Linked DNA regions of Homo sapiens: region 2 is linked to region 1. Evidence: fine-mapped expression QTL. Tissue or cell type: caudate. Region 1 holds a variant in brackets; the other region holds the start of a gene. All regions are shown on one strand. Distances are between the middles of the regions.

The links. PIP is the estimated chance that this variant, and not a neighbour inherited with it, causes the effect.
Region 2: it holds the start of ATP2C2, and the variant in region 1 is fine-mapped to the expression of ATP2C2 in caudate (GTEx, PIP 0.98).

The regions. Positions count from the first base shown.
Region 1 is chr16:84,341,095-84,349,425 of GRCh38, forward strand. No RefSeq gene overlaps it. Among named protein-coding and RNA genes, the nearest start is that of ATP2C2, 23 kb to the right of the region's middle. The variant A/G (reference allele first, on the strand shown) is at 4,897.
Region 2 is chr16:84,363,976-84,371,975 of GRCh38, forward strand. It overlaps ATP2C2 (ATPase secretory pathway Ca2+ transporting 2), which reads left to right and starts at 4,563. Exons shown (of 27, transcript NM_014861.4): 1 at 4,563-4,739. The coding sequence starts at 4,641.

The sequences.
Region 1 (8,331 bases):
AAAGTGAGACTCTGTCTCTTAAAAAAAAGAAAAAAAAATCAGGCATGGTGGTGCACAACTTCAGGTCCCAGCACAGGAGGCTGAGGTGAGAGGATCGCTTGAGCCCAGGAGGTCGAGGCTGCAGTGAGCCATGATTGTGCCACTGCACTCCAGCCTGGATGCCAAAGCAAGACCCTGTCTCAGAAAAATAATAATAATAATAATAATAATAATCCCTTTGGACTTTGGTTATTCGGATGTGGCCACATTCCCTCCCAGGTTGCTTTCCATCTGAGTTGCCAGTATAAGCTCGCACCCTGAGCCTTTTTTCTAGAACATTCTCACAGATATCAGTAAGTTGGTCCAAAGAGAAGGCAGGTGGGTTCATTTCAGGTGACTGTCTTTCAGGACAAACCTGATCTTACAGCCCCCACAGAGGTTCTTCCCGTGCAGACACCTGGAGTAGGAGCCTGAGTGAAAAGGAGCCCAGCCCCCAAAACATCCTTCCTGCAGGCCCCTGTGAGCTGCCTGAAGTTCCACCATTACAGAACCATCTTTTGTTGACAGCTGCGAGGCCTGTTAGACTGTGGACTTCTCTGGGAGAGGCTGCTGTAATCTAAGCCGTTAGGGAATCCCGCCCTTCAGTTTACGTTCTGGAGTGAAGCCACACAGGTGCGTCGCTGATCATGGCCACCGAGGTAAGAGGTAGGAGAGGGTCATACTGGGATCTGGGCCTCCAGTCGAGATGAGGAGTCAGGGCGGCCTTCCCAGAGGAGGCAACGTTTGAGCAAAGTTTCTGAGTATGAGTTTCTGTGGCTGCTGTTAACAAATGCCCACACACCAAGTGGTTTGAAACAACAGTCATGCATTCACACTGTTCTGGAGGCCAGAAAGCCAAAACCAAGGTGTTGACACGGCTGGGTCATTCCGGAGGCTCTAAGGGAGAATCCAACCCGTGCCTCTCTCCGGGCTTCGAGGGAGAATCTGCCCGGCGCCTCTCTCCCGGCTTCCGATGGCAGCCGGCCACTTCAGTACTCCCGGCCTTGAGGATGTGCCTCTCCCATCTCTGCAGCGTCTTCCCGTGGCCTTTGCCTCTGTCTCCGTGTCCCAGATTTCCCTCTGATTTCTCTTTGAAGGACACCTGTCATTGGATTTAGGGCCCTCTTAAGTCCAGGATAATCTCCTCTTGAGACCTTTAACTTCATCCCATCTGCAAAGTCCCTATTTCCAAATGAGGTCACATCCGCAGGTTCTGGGGGTTAGGACATGGGCATTCTGGGGAGACGTCATTGAACCCCCAGCAGGGAGCAAGCGGCTAGGTCAGGAGAGGGAAGAGGGGTAAAGGCATTCCAGGCAGAGGGAAGAACATTGAAAAAGGCATGGAGAAGAGAAGTTCAAGGACCTCCAAGCAGGTGGGCATGGCCAGGGAAAGGGGGCACCCAAGAGTGAGAGGATGTGGGGCTAGAAAGCTAAGCAGGTGCCAGCCGGTTCACACGCTGAGTTTGAACTTGACCCTGTTGACCTAAAGGAAAAAAAAAAAACAACGGAGGAAAAAATGACTTAATTACTTAGTTAAATTAAGTAGAGAGTTTATTTGGGCCAAGCTTGAGGATTTCAACCTGAGAGTATGGACTCAAGCTGCTCTGAATATAAAGTCCACTCAGCAGCAGTTACAAGTAGGTTTTTAAAGGAAAAAAGGAAAGGCAGTTCCCAAGCTGTTTACCAAGAATTTATATGAAAATAATAGAAACTATTGCTTGGCTAGGCATTGTTCTTTGTGTCACAAATTCCCAGAACATGAAGATAGCGGGTGAGGCAGCAAGTCAGGAACAAAATGCCTTTAACTACCCCTAGGCCTGGGGGTGACGGCATGACTGAGGTCCCACACTCTCGTCTTTCCGAGCCTGATGAATTCTGCACATCCCAGGAAGCTCAGACTCCAAGCCATTTCTTTTTTCTCACCCCTGAAAATAATGTGGAGATGCTGAAAGTTTTACCTGGGTCATTATGTCACCGACTCTCCCCACACCCCTGAGAGGTGGGAATTATGGCCCCATTCACAAATGGAGACTGAGGCCCAGGGAGGTGAAGTCACTTGCCCAAGAGCGGATCCTTGGAGAAATGGCAGGGGTGGGATTGGAGCTCAGGCCTCATCTAACTGCATGAGTGGGAAGATGGAGGCAGCAGGGTTCTGGGTGTCTGTGGCAGGCAGAGGTGGGTTATCCAGGAGAAAGGAAGGAAGCAAGGCTTTTGGGACTGGGTGCCAGGCCCACCGTCCCATCACGCTGGGCCCGGGGTCCTCATGGTCTTCGTATGAGACCCACCTCCTTGGCTACAGCTGATTGGTCCAGAAACATGTCACCTGACTCAAGCTGAGCCAATTCTATTTCCCTTCCAAGAATGTGCTCTTGAGTCTTTTTTTTCTTTTTTCTGAGACAGAGTCTCGCTCTGTTGCCCAGGCTGGAGTGCAGTGGTGCGATCACAGCTCACTGCAGCCTCTGCCTCCTGGGTTTACGCTATCCTCCTGCCTCAGCCTCCCAAGTAGCTGGGATTACAGGCGCCCACCACCACACCCAGCTAATTTTTTATATTTTTAGTAGAGACAGGGTTTCACTGTGTTAGCTAGGATGGTCTCGATCTCCTGACCTCGTGATCTGCCTGCCTCGGCCTCCCAAAGTGCTGGGATTATAGGCGTGAGCCACTGCACCCAGCTCTTTTTTCCTTTTTTTTGAGGCAGGGTCTCACTCTATTGCCCAGGCTGGAGTGCTGTAGCATAATAATGGCTCACTGCAGCCTCGACCTCCTGGGTTCAAGTGATCCTCCTGCTTCAGCCTCCTGAGTAGCTGGGACCACAGGTGCACGCCACCACACCTGGCTAATTTTTGTATTTTTCTGTAGAGATGGTGTCTCGCTATGCTGCCCAGGCTGGTCTCGAACTCCTGGGCTCAGGCGATTCACTCACCTCGGCCTCTCAAAGTCCTGGGATTACAGGTGTGAGCCACCGTGCCTGGCCTTCTCTTGAGTCTTTGATGCTAGAAGGTGATGCACAGGGCAAGTGATTTAGAGCCTGGCTCCGGACTGAGGCATTCAGCGGCGTGGGTTCAGGCAGCTTCTTTTACCACTTCTCTGTGAACCTCTCTGTGTTGCTTCCATTTCCTTCTCTGGAAGTGAGAAAGATGAAACCAGCACTTTCCTCCCGGCCTATGGTGGAACTAAGTGATACTTAGTGTTCCGCTTATGGAGGAAATGGTGACACTTCCTGATGTAGGTTTGGCACTCGGAAAGCGCTGGGCAAAACTTAGTCCTAACCTGGTGGCTGTCTGAACAGAGAGGATGGAACTTGGAGCTCCTGCCTTTAATCTTTGATATGAGGGGGAGGGGGAGAGAGAAAGAGACAGAGAAACCAAGAGAGGAGGAGGAAGAGGAGAGAGAAAGAGACCCACAGACAGGGAGCGGGGGAGAGGAGAGAGACAGAGAAAGAAAAGCCACCTTCTCCATTTTCTTTGGTTTCCCAGCCACCATGACAGTTTTCTAGGACTTGCTTCCAGTTGTTAGGAGATGGGGCTGCCCTCTTTGAACTTGGGTTCCAGGCAATGAGTCCATGGTCCCCGGTAGCCAGCACCCCTGATTCTGGCTTAGGCTAGCACACGTGGATTTCTGTTATTTGCAATCAAAACCAAACCAAACCAACACTCAGAAAACACTTCGACTGAGACAGTTTGGCAGGCCAAGAGCCCCATGAACTCTATTGGAAACCCCTTTGATCTGGATGCCAGGGAATTCTTGCCCCAGACCCTGTCCCCACGTAAAGAAAAACCCAGCAGGCCCGAACCTCGGTGTGGGGCAGCCACGGGAGCTCCTAGGCAGCCCTCCTGGCTGTGCCGGCCGACAGGCCTTCTGTCATGCATCCCATACCCACACCTCCTACTCCCAGATGGGCAGGTTTCTGGCAAGTTCCACACTCAACCCAGGAACCCGTTGAGCAGGTGCCTTGAAATGGACAGTACCCCTACACACTGGGCACAGGAGGGCCTTCCCTGGCCAGGTGGGGACTGCAGAATGTGTGAGCAAAGAGCAAATTCGGGTAATTACAGCTTCATTAACTACCCACCAGGCTGAGTGCCACTCAGCATCCGTGATCTCAACAACCAGCCCAGCTGGGAAGATGCCAGTATCCCCATTGGATGGGAGAAAGAACCAAGGCTTCGATATCCTAATAAGTCAGCCTCTTACTCTAGGTCAAATAGTTACTAAGTCAGGGAGCCAGAACATTTTGTGTCTACGTGAAGTAAGGCTTATTATTAACATTTTAAAATATAAACAGTGCATGAAAAACAGTGTACTAGGTGGCTTTGCACTTCTCACCAGCTGCCACTGTTTTACCTTCAACTTTTTGCAGGAACAGGAGCTGGAATATTTTAAAGCAAATCTCAGATATCACTTATGTCACCTGCAAATGCATCAGAATATGCATCTTGAATACATGAGGATAATGTATTCATTTCTCTTTCTTAACATACCCATGAGGTCATTATCACTAGACCACTTGGTTTGGGAAGTTCCAGCTGGGACCACCACAGCTTTATCCTAGGAGGGACCAGGGCAGTACCAGCCTAGTCCTCGTCTCCCTCAGTGGTCAAAAGTTCACAAGAGGCCAGGCACGGTGGCTCACACCTGCTCTCCCAGCACTTTAGGAGACCAAAGTGGAATGATTGCTCGAGCTCAAGACCAGCTTGGGCAACAGAGGGAGACCCCATATCTACGTGAAATTTAAAATTAAATTTAAAAATTAGCCTGGTGTGGTGGCACTCACCTGTGGTCCCAGCTATTTGGGAGGCTGAAGTGGGAGGATTGCTTGAGCCTGGGAGGTGGAGGCTGCAATGGGCTGTGACGGCGCCACTGCATTCCAGCCTGGGC[A/G]ACACAACAAGACCCTGTTTCAAAAAAAAAATTACAAGAGCAGCAGTTCCCAAAGTGAGGTTCCTAGACCCAGCAGAATCCATGTCACTAGAGTCCGCATTAGAAAGGCAGAATCTCACGCCCACTCCAGACCTGTTAAGCCAGATACTGCAGCCTTGGACCTGGCAAACCTCATTTGTTTCTGTGTTTTTCCTAATCTCATGACAGGATATGGCAATCTGTGTTTTAACTCACCCTCCAGGTGATCCTGATGCCAACCCCAGTTCTAGAACTGCTGCTCTAGAGAGAAACAGGTGACACAAAGAGATGGCTCCACTCTTGCATTCAGGGTATTCTTTTATGTTTATTTTTTATTTTTCTTAAACAGGATCTCACTCTGTCACCCAGGCTGGAGTGCTGTTGCACGATCTCGGCTCACTGCAACCTCCGCCTCCAGGGTTCAAGCTATTCTCATGTCTCAGCCTCCAGAGTAACTGGGATTACAAGCACGCCAACACACCCGGCTAATTGTTGTATTTTTAGTAGAGATGGGGTTTCGCCATGTTGGCCAGGCTGGTCTCAAACTCCTGACCCCAAGTGATCCGCTCACCTCAGCCTCCTAAAGTGCTGAGATTATAGGCATGAGCCACTGTGACCGGCCTCAATCAGTTTATTCTTTGTGCATGTTCTGGCTTCTTCTCCAAAGGATGCTGAGGACTAGTCCTGAGCAGTCTTGTCCTGCAGTTAGATGCATTGGCCCTGGAGCCCACCGTCAGCAAGTAAGACCCGACTCTTCCTCTCATTGCCCAGGTGACCTCTGTGCCTTGGTCTCCTCTTTCATAAAATGTGTGCGAATAATAGCACTTGCTTCACACGCTGCTCATGAGGAGCAAACCAGCTAAGGTACAGGAACTGCTTAGAATGGTTCCTAGTGCATAGAAAGCGTTCGTTAAGGCAAAGATGTCCTGTTCTTACCAAAACGGCGATGTCTGTTACCAAAACGGAGATGGCCGGATCGCTAGGCTGCCATAGGACCCCGGGAGTGAGATCACAGCAAGTCACTAGGAGTCTGTTGTGCAAGGGAAGGGCTGGGAGAGAACAGAAGGAGACTGGGGGCTTCTTTTACAGCTTTGGGGAGTGCAGGATTAAAGAGGGGCTCAAAGGGTGCCCTCAACCTGAGGGCTCCAGGCAGAGCAGGCGTCTCCGAGGTGGGGAGGCTGCAGGCGGTGACTTGGCAGGAGGTGGTGAGGACTGAGCTTGGGTTGCCCGGAGCAATGCTCCTGAGATGCCCCACAAGCAACCCCTGGGGACCTGCTTCCCAAAACCCCGGAGAGGACGAGAGGGGGCCCACTAGCTGGAAGAGCTGAGATGCCTCCAGAAGTCTCTAGAATGTTCTGTCCTCCCCAGGCCCAGTGGGGAGACGAGAGACTCAAGCAATTGAGGAGTGTGGGGTTCCCCAGACACCCGGGAAGGCAGAGGGTCAGGAGGTCAGGGCTGGGTTCTGAGCAAACCCCAGTGCCACCGTTGTCCCAGGTTTGATTGTCCCCAAGCCTCAGGAAACCAGTTGTGTACTGTGATTTAAGTAGGACATGGGGCTGGGCACAGTGGCTCATGCCTGGAATCCCAGCACTTTGGGAGGCCAAGGCAGGTGGGTCACCTGCAGTCAGGCATTTTGAGACCAGCCTGGCCAATATGGTGAAACCCTGTCTCTAATTAAAAAAAAAAAAAATAGCCAGGCATGGTGGCACACACCTGTAATCCCAGCTACTCGAGAGGCTGAGGCAGGAGAATCGCTTGACTCCGGGAGGCAGAGGTTGCAGTGAGCCAAGATCGCACCACTGCACTCCAGCCTGGGGAACAGAGCAAGACTCTGTCTCATAATAAAAAATAAATAAATAAAAAGGACATGGGCTCTCAAACTCTGTCTAGCAGAGGGATAGACACCTTGTCTCCTTTATACTCATGCACGAGGGAGACACTGAAACCTCCCCAGTTGTCCATCTTAGCAAAGAAAACTCATAGGCTTTACACCTTGGGAAGGACAGAAATTCCAACTGAATAAGGCAACGAGTTATGAAATGAGACGGCTGATCCAAACGCAGACATTTCAGAGGTTCATGATATGAACTCAGGAGGTTGGTTTGTTTGAGACAAGGTCTCGCTCTGTCTCTCAGGCCGGAGTACAGTGGCATGAGGAAAGCTCACTGCAGCCTCGACCCCCCAGGCTCAGGCGATCCTCCTGCCTCAGCCTGCCAAGTAGTGGGAACTACAGGTGCAATCACCACGCATAGCTAATTTTCTATGTTTTGTAGAGACGGGGGGTCTCGCTGTTTTGCCCAGGATGGTCTCAAATTCCTGGGCTCCAGTGATCCTTCCACCCTGGCTTCCTAGGATTACAGGTGTAAGCCACTGCACTCGGCCAAGATATTTTATTTTAAAAAATTTTTATTTTATATTTATATCAGCTAGCCCTGACCACTGGAAAGGCCTAGAAAAAGTAGTCGCCTCAGTAGCCTAACACACCAATTATGGTCTTGAAATGCCGTTTCTCATTTCAAACACTAAAATTAAAAAGCACGGTGTCTTGGAGAAATAGCTGACTCCAGGACTGGAAAGGTGCCAGCCAGTGTACAAGACAAGGCTGAATTATCTTATTACACCAGATAGCAAAGAATTATGCCAAAGAACTCAGGGCCAATCCGAAGTCATTCCCACCAGCCAAAGCTGTGTGACCATGTGAGCTTCAATATGAATAATATTTGCAATGGATGGAAATGCACCTATGTTTAAACTCACGAGTTCACAAATGTATTTTTAAAACTTGCATATGTACATGTGATTTAAAAAAAGAAAAATAAAAAATATAAAGACTATCTGATCACTTTCAGAGGATGATGAGAAACCAACATGTTATCTTGAAAAGTGGCTAATAAAGGGAAGGAATCCAGCAATTCTTCTGCCTTTCCTGTACCAATCGGTAACAAAATTGCAGATGAAGAAATGCCTCTTTTTATAGAAGTATTCCAATCAATAAATTTAAAAGCAATGGTGGAGTAGTACAGTTTTGCAATCCCCAGTGAGTTAGTGAATCTAGGCTTTGAGCAACGACAAGTACATTACAAAGAGAGACGCTCCCCAGGCATCCTGAGCCTCCTGATGCAGGAGCACAGAACCAAAGCCATCCATCCAGAGGCTGGGCAACCCTCTGGATCCCAATTTGCAGGGAATAGTGAGGACAGAGGGATAGGCAGAACGGCACTGGGAACATGCAACCAGCAAAATCCAGACTGTGGCCAGGCATGGTGGCTCACACCTGTAATCCCAGCACTTTGGGAGGTCAAGGCGGGCGGATCACCTGAGGTTGGAAGTTCGAGACCAGCCTGACCAACATGGAGAAAGCCCATCTCTACTAAAAATACAAAATCAGCCGGGCTTGGTGGCACAGGCCTGGAATCC
Region 2 (8,000 bases), 23 kb after region 1:
TGCAAAACAAACAGAATCGAGGGTTTATGCAAGGAACCGTAACTTCCACCTAATTCTTAACATTAGAAACAAATTGTACAAAATATACTTTTGTACAGTGTACCCTTTCCAAAAAGGATGTCTTCAGTGCCACGCTTAGAGAACTTTTGAGTGAAGTTTGTTACCAAACAAAATACAGGTGTCTTGAGGTTGCATCCTGGCTCCCAGCAGGGCGCATTGCTGGGGATAATTTGTGGGCAGTGAAAAGACACGACTCTGACATAGAGAGTGAATGGGAGTTGCAGAGCATGACCTCATTGTTCAAGGTGCCCAGAGCAGACATTTTGAGAAAGGCTGGATGCCTCTGGTTGGGTCCCACCCTTGGCGTTCATCGTTGGCCAATAGGGCAGAATCACTCTGAGGCGTTGAGCCGCAAACCCCAGAAAGTTCTCCAGCCAACTGCCTTGTTAGATTCTTTGCAAGTGGGCTCTAGCATTTTACAGGCTGAAGGCAGAAAAAATAAACAAAAAACTTGAAAAAACAGAATCTTGAAGTCTGTGGGGATGACCACGGAATCCAAACAAAGTGACAGACAGAGCTCAGAAAGGTCGTTTAAGGCAAACATAAATAGCAGGTGTAACTGACGGGGAAACAACAACACACAACAACAACAACAACAACCAACTCAGAAGGTAAGAGCTTGGGCCGGGCACGGTGGCTCAAACCTGTAATCCCAGCACTTTGGGAGGCTGAGGCAGGCCGATAGATCACTTGAGGTCAGAAGTTCAAGACCAGCCTGGTCAACATGGCAAAACCCTGTCTCTACTAAAAAAAAAAAAAAAAAAAAAAAAAATTAGCTAGGCATGGTGGCGCATGCCTGTAGTCCCAGCTAATCTGGAGGCTGAGGCACGAGAATCGCTTGAACCCAGAAGGTGGAGGTTGCAGCAAGCCGAGATGGTGCCACTGTACTCCAGCCTGGGCAATAGAGCAAGACTCTGTCTCAAAAAAAAAAAAAAAAAAAAAAGAGAGAGTTTGGATAATTAACTTACTTAGAATATAAAAGGATGCAGAGGTTAGAAAAACAAAAATTAAAGTTGGAAAATTTCTTTAAATCTGGAAAAGGAAACCAAAAGAGACTGTAAATACTCATCTGTATTTCTGAAGTGTTTTCAGGTAGCTCCCAATAGAACTTTCAATGAGATGTTTATTCCAAAACCAAAGTAAAAATTGACAGCAAATTGAGTGCTTGCCTCAAAAGGCACAGAAATGAAACATGAAAGAGGATGACAGAAGTCAATCTAACAATGACAACTATAACAATGTAAACACAATACATTTCCCTATTTTTTTTTTTTTTTTTTTTTGAGACGGAGTCTCGCTGTGTTCCCCGGGCTGGAGTGCAGTGGCGCGATCTCGGCTCACTGCAAGCTCCGCCTCCCGGGTTCACGCCATTCTCCTGCCTCAGCCTCCCGAGTAGCTGGGACTACAGGCGCCCGCCACCACGCCTGGCTAATTTTTTGTATTTTTAATAGAGACGAGGTTTCACCGTGTTTGCCAGGATGGTGTCAATCTCCTGACCTCATGATCCGCCTGCCTCAGCCTCCCAAAGTGCTGGGATTACAGGCATGAGCCACTGCGCCCGGCCTACATTTCCCTATTATAAAGCAAATCGTTCATATGAAAGTTCTGTTAAATATAAATTTGAATGATCTGCTGTTTATGGGAGACATATTCAAAAATTTTTTGGAGTATTTGCCATGTTTCAGGCACATCATTTACCATAACCAACACTGGTGGAGCCTAATTTACCTAATTTTACACACCACAAATCTAATTTATAGGCCTGGGCAACAGAGCAAAGACCCCATCTCTACATAAAAATAAAAATTAGAAAATTAGCTGGGTGTGGTTCTGTGCACCTGTAGTCCCAGCTACTCAGGAGGGAGTATTGCTTGAACCCAGGAGTTCAAGCCTACAGTGAACTATGATCGCGCCAGTGCCCTCCAGCCTGGACTACAGAGTGAGACCTTGTCTCTAAAATGTACATGCATATATCCACCACCTAGAGTTTCCTTCTGGAATGCCCTGGGCATTTTCGAACCTAGCCCAGGAATTCCAGCCTTGACATCTCTGGGCTGGAGCGGAAGCCATGGTGATAGGATCCGAAAGGCTGGGCTTTCAAATCCTCTGCTCCGGGGATGCTGATCTGCCTGGAGAGATGACATCTGGTTAACAGCTTGGAAAAACATGAAGATGCCAACAAGGCGTTCTTCTTCCCTGGATCCAACATCATTTTAAAATCACAGAATGCCACTTGGGAAGGACCTGAGAAATAACTGAGCCAAGTTCCCATATGTTCTTTTATATTAATAATATAGAAGCGCCTGAGAGCCTGCAATGTCGGGTACCACGACATCGTACTACTACATCATACCTGTGCAAGCATTCACTCAGCCTGAACCACAGGATGCTGAGGTTGGCTGCGGGATGTCTCCTCCTTGTTCCTCTACAACACTCTTTTTTTTTTGTTTGTTTGACATGAAGTCTTGCTCTACTGCCCAGGCTGGAGTGCAGTGGCACAATCTTGGCTCCCTGCAACCTCCACCTTCCGGGTTCAAGCGATTCTCCTGCCTCAGCCTCCGAAGTAGCTGGGATTACAGGCGCATGCCAGCACACCTGGCTAATTTTTCTATTTTTACTAGTGACAGGGTTTCCCCATGTTGGCCAGGCTGGACTCGAACTCCTGACCTCAGGTGATCCGCCCACCTTGGCCTCTCAAAGTGCTGGGATTAGAGGTGTGAGCCACCTTGCCCAGCCTCCTCTACACCACTCTCCACCCTTCTTTGGATTCTCTGCCCAGGAGGCTGCATCCTTGGCGCTCTGTTGCTTTCTGGCTTTTGATCTAAGCAGTTGCCCTCTGCAGAAGTTATCAGTGCCCCAGAGCTCCCCCTCCAGGTAACTCCTCTCTCGTCTGGCCCTTCAGGCCTTGGGTGGGACCAAAGCCACTTCTCACTCTTTGCTAGTCTTCGTTAATGACACAAGCACTTCTGGTTTCTCTACGTCTTCCCCACAGCTTTGTAAAAAGTCTGTTTCTCAAACTCTCCTCAAATTACTATTTCCTACTGGGACCCTGACTCCTACGGGTAGGTAGTGACATCCCCATTTTATGGATGAGTAAACTGAGGTGGAGAGAGGTGAAGAAAATTGCCCAAGGTCGGAAAGGAACATTCCTGGGATTCAAATCTGGACTCACTCACATCAGAGGTTTGCTGTTACCATTATTCCTGCACCTTTGTTGAAACTGGGGAGTGGGGCCAGGCTGATACCGTAGCCTTTGTTTCCTTGAAAGAGGAAGATGCAGGAGATACAAGAAGGGGCACTGGAACTGCCCTGCAGGTTTTCGTGGCCTGGAGTCAACCCTCGGGAGCAATTGAGGTAGGTGGCAAATATTTGCTCAAAAGGGGTGGCTGAATTTCGTGGACAAATGCAGAGGGCACCTCCTGTAGCCCGTGAGTAACTTCCCTGTAGAGATGAGGAAGCCAGCGGAAAGGCGGGTGGCACGGACTTCCCCAGAGCTCCCCCTCTGCTAAGTGGTGGGTCTAGTTACGGATCTAGTCCTACCTGAAGCCAAAGAAAGCCCTGGAACTTCAAAGCACCCACTTGGCTGCTGGCAACTGTCTACACTGCGTATGGACTCACATACTTTGGGAGCCATTTGAGCCCAGCACCTTCTGATGATGAAGAGGAGGAGGATGGTGTCATGGGGACACCAGCACATTCTCTACTCCAAGCCCTGCTCGAGACCTTCCTGTACAGCACTGTCCGCTGGGGCCTCTCCATGTCACTGTGAAGGAGGCGCTATCGTGGTGGCCATTCTGCAGAGCAGTAAACCAAGGCGCTAAAAATATAAGAAACCTGCTCAGGTCCCACGACGAGCAAGAGCGGCGCTCATCCTGCAGACGAGGACAGGGGCCCTGACCATCCGAGACCATGCAGGCGCCAAAGGCAGCAGGGCTCTCAGTCGCTCCTGTTCCTGGACTCACTCCCAGGGCCCTGGAGGTGGGGGTCTTAGCCTTCTGCTGCTCCCCGCTCAATGACAGGCTAGGTTGCCGAGGCTCAGAAAGGCCACGTGACCCGTCCAGAGTGCACAGCCGCAGGTGTGAGTCTGACTGAGCTCCAGCCACCTCGCTCCCGGCGCCTTAGAGCCGCCCACCCTGGGTTCCTCAAGAGGATCACCTGGGGCTCGTTAAAAACCCAGCTCCCGGCGGCTCCAAACCGTGACTGGGCAGGGAGGGGTCTGGGAATCCGGATTTTAAACCAGCATTTGCTCCTCCACCTCCCCCACTCCAGGTGATTCTTAGGATCTGTAAGTTTGGGAAACAGCCCAAGCCCTGAGGCGACGCAGCCTCTCCCTGGGCCTTTCATGGCCAGCCGGCGCTGTCCCCAGAGCCCCTGGGGTCCCAGGCGAGCTCGCGGGGCGGGGCCGGGTGAGCCGGCACCTCCCTGTGCGCAGCCCCGCCCCAGGGGCGGGGCCTCACCTGCCGCGGGCAGGTAGACAGCTACCTGGTAACCGGGTCCGGCCCAGGAGGCTTGGGCGCGCGCAGCCATCCCGGGCCTCGCCGGGGACCTAGGGACGCAGGCAACGCCTGCGCCCGCTCACCATGGTCGAGGGACGCGTCTCCGAGTTCCTGAAGAAACTCGGCTTCTCGGGCGGGGGCCGCCAGTACCAGGCGCTGGAGAAGGACGAAGAGGAAGCCTTGGTGAGTCCCCGCGACTCCGCGCCGGGCGTGCGACCCGACCCCCCATCCCCTCCGTCGTAACCGTCCCCGGCCCGAGACCCCGCGTTCGCGCTGCGATCCGCGAACTCGCCCTCCTCCCCTGGCTCTGGAAAGAAGCTGTCCTCACAGCAACCGCGCTCTCATCTGCGCTCTGGCGCGGGGAGCTCAGCATGGAACCCTCACGTGAACCCATTTTGTGGTTGAGAAACTGAGGCCGAGAGTGGTTAAGTATATTCCCTAAGGGGCACGGAGCTAGGAAGTGACCTGGCTGGGAACTTAACCTAGGTTTCTCTGACTCCAGAGAATTAAAATTCCTGGGTCTCCAGACTTGGGCTGCTTTATGGATTTTTAAAACTTAAATTGGAAAATAAAATTAGAGGGATGCAAAAAACAAAAGATTGCTGAAATGTTGTAGCAATAATAGAAAGCAAAGTTGGAGCTGAGGGACCTCCCAGCCTCACTTCCTACAGTCAGGTACTTTTAGAAAGTCACTCAGAGCTGTATGCCTGCTTTGCAACCTTCAGGGACCCTCTGGGATAAAGCAGCAGGGTGCCAGGGCAGGGCGGTTCATGAGGGAACGAAGTGGCAAAGCTGTCAAATAAAGCCCCTCCTGTTCCTTGGATTCTTGGAAGCCAGGGGTGAAGCCAGGCTTGAGGGTGACCCAACACCCTTCTTTTTAGCTTCGCAAACAGAACTCGTTGCATGCTTTAAGGTCAGGGGGGCACTGAATTTCTGCAGAAGCGTTTCTCTGCACGCCAGAGGGTCGTTGCACTTTTTTTTTTTTCATTTACGCTTAAGCAGTCGTTCAAAAGTAACATTTCTGAACGAGTCCCCTGGGTTGCTAATTAGAAATATGACTTGGCGATGGCCTTTTGACCAGTGAAAGGAAACTTCAAAGGTAAACTTACCTTTTAATTAAAAAAAGAAATTAGCTGAAAAAATATTTGACTTAAAATTTTATTTTTTTCTCCCAAAGAATACTAATGGTCAAAACATTTTGTTTGTGAGATTAAGTATTCGTGCTTTTTTAAAAATAGTGTTTTGTGCTTTTTTAAAAATAGTGTTTTATACATCCCTGTTGATGTAAGAATTCTGGTCTTAGGGTGGTAGGCCACAGGACCACGTAACTAGCAGTTTTTGAGCAATCTCGATTTTTCTGAAGTGGCATGTTAATATTGATAGGATATAGAGTTCAATTAATTGGCTGTGATCCATTTCTCTGCTTCTGCGATACATTCTGCTAAAGGAGTTTGAAGTTTATTTGCCATCACAGGTTGCCTTTCCTATGTTGCCATTCCTGTTTTTTCCTTTCCATCTTTTGATTCTTGCATCAGGCCAGGTATTTTTCAAACTCTCCTGGTGTGTAGTTGGTTACCATCAGGTTTCACAGGATGTCCAGGAATGCAGGTGCATGGATGATGTAACCTCAAGGGAGATGCTGGGAGAGTTTGATCTCTGTGCCAGGTGGACTCGTCCCTCCAAAGCTTTGCAGGAGAGTTCTCAGAGGTCTGACAGGTGTTCAGCCGGTCTGTCAGTGTGCTCTCCCACCTGGCTGTGGACCGGGGTGCTCTCAGCAGCATCCTGAGGCCCTGGGTGCGTGATGATGGGCAGTGTGCAGCGCCAGGAGGCGGGTGATACCAGCACTGACACCAAAGGCCAGCTGAGAAAGAAGCCATGCTGTCTCCAGAGGCAGCCTTGTGCAAACCCAGGAAATGTGCAAACCCAGGAAATGGCAATGAAGATCGATGGGAAGTGTGAGGAGGGAGGGAGGTGGGGAGGCCGGGTGGCTGGGCGAGGCACTCACTTCCTGCCAGGTTGGCTCAGACCTGAACACCTCCTTTGCTGTCATACTCATGTCCTCTCGTTGGAACTCCTTTCTCCCAGGGTTTGGAAAGGAGGCGATGTGTGTTGAGGTGATCACTTCTACAATAGTTGGAATTGTCTTTTTTTTTTTTTGCGTTATTTCATACTAGTTTATTTAGGGGTTCCATTTTCACTCCTCAATAGAACCGTCTTTTATGAGCACTAATTACATGCCACATCCAGGATGCCTGTAGGAGGCCTCTAAGCCCTCCCCTCCCCCAGCCACTTTGACCAGTTACCCCAGTTCTAATAGTGATTGTTACTGAGAACTTGCTGTGTCTTCTCTTGGGCCTCTTACCTCCAAGGTAAATTTTACTCTCGTCATGTGATCAATGAGGATGTGAGGCTCCTAGTGGGGCCACGTTTGTTTGCTCAGTGAGCATTTCCTGACAGCCAGTTTTGCTAGGCGCTGAGGATACAGATGTGTACAAAACAAAGTTCATAAAGGAGGCCAATGGTCAGCTGAGAAACTGGGAGATGCTTTATTTGAGACCCAGTGGTCTCAGGTGCACTGGAGAATCAAAGAGTAGAGGACCAGACAGAGGACTGGTGGTTGAGAGGGGAACTGGAGACGACCCCATGTTAGAAGCACTGGAGACTGGATTTCAGCATTTCCAGGAATGGAAAGAAAGGTGTTTGAGCCGGGCGCAGTGGCTCATGCCTGTCATCCCCACACTTTGGAAGACTGAGGCAGGAGGGTCACTTGAACCCCAGAGTTCAAGATCAGCCTGGGCAACATAGCCAGATGCCATCTCTGCAAAAAATTAGGCGTGGTGGTGTGCACCTGTGGTCCTAGCTACTCACCAAGCTGAAGCAGGAGGATTGCTTGCACCTGGGAGGTCAAGGCTGCAGTGAGTTGTGATCATGCCACTGTGCTCCAGCCTGGGCAACAGAGTGAGACCCTGTCTCAAAACAAAACAACAACAAAAAGGTCTTTGAGAGGCCTCCTTAATTTAGTTACTAGAAAAAGCTTCTCACTGCTGACCTGAACATTAGGGTAAGGAAGAGATTGGAGCAGAAATTCCTGCTTCCCAGGTGACTCAGCGCCAACTCCGGGGGAAGCTGTCTCTGCCCCTCAGGGCTCCCATCTCTTAAGTGAGGCAGGTATAGCCCCAGCCCACTGCCTTCCTGGCTGGTGAGCAGATGCATCCTTCTGGGCTCTCCAGGGTGAGGCTTGGATCCCAACAGACGAATGTAGTGACCACCCATCCATTCAACCTAGATTCACGGAGGGGGCTCCCTCTGTGTGTCAAGTGAGTGCTACCAGCTGGAGTTGGGGCTGATAAGGATGCACAGTTCTCTACCCTCAGGTATCCCAACCAGGAGGCAGAGACAGGCACCCAGCAACTGGTCACAGTTCACTGTTTAATGCCAACGTGT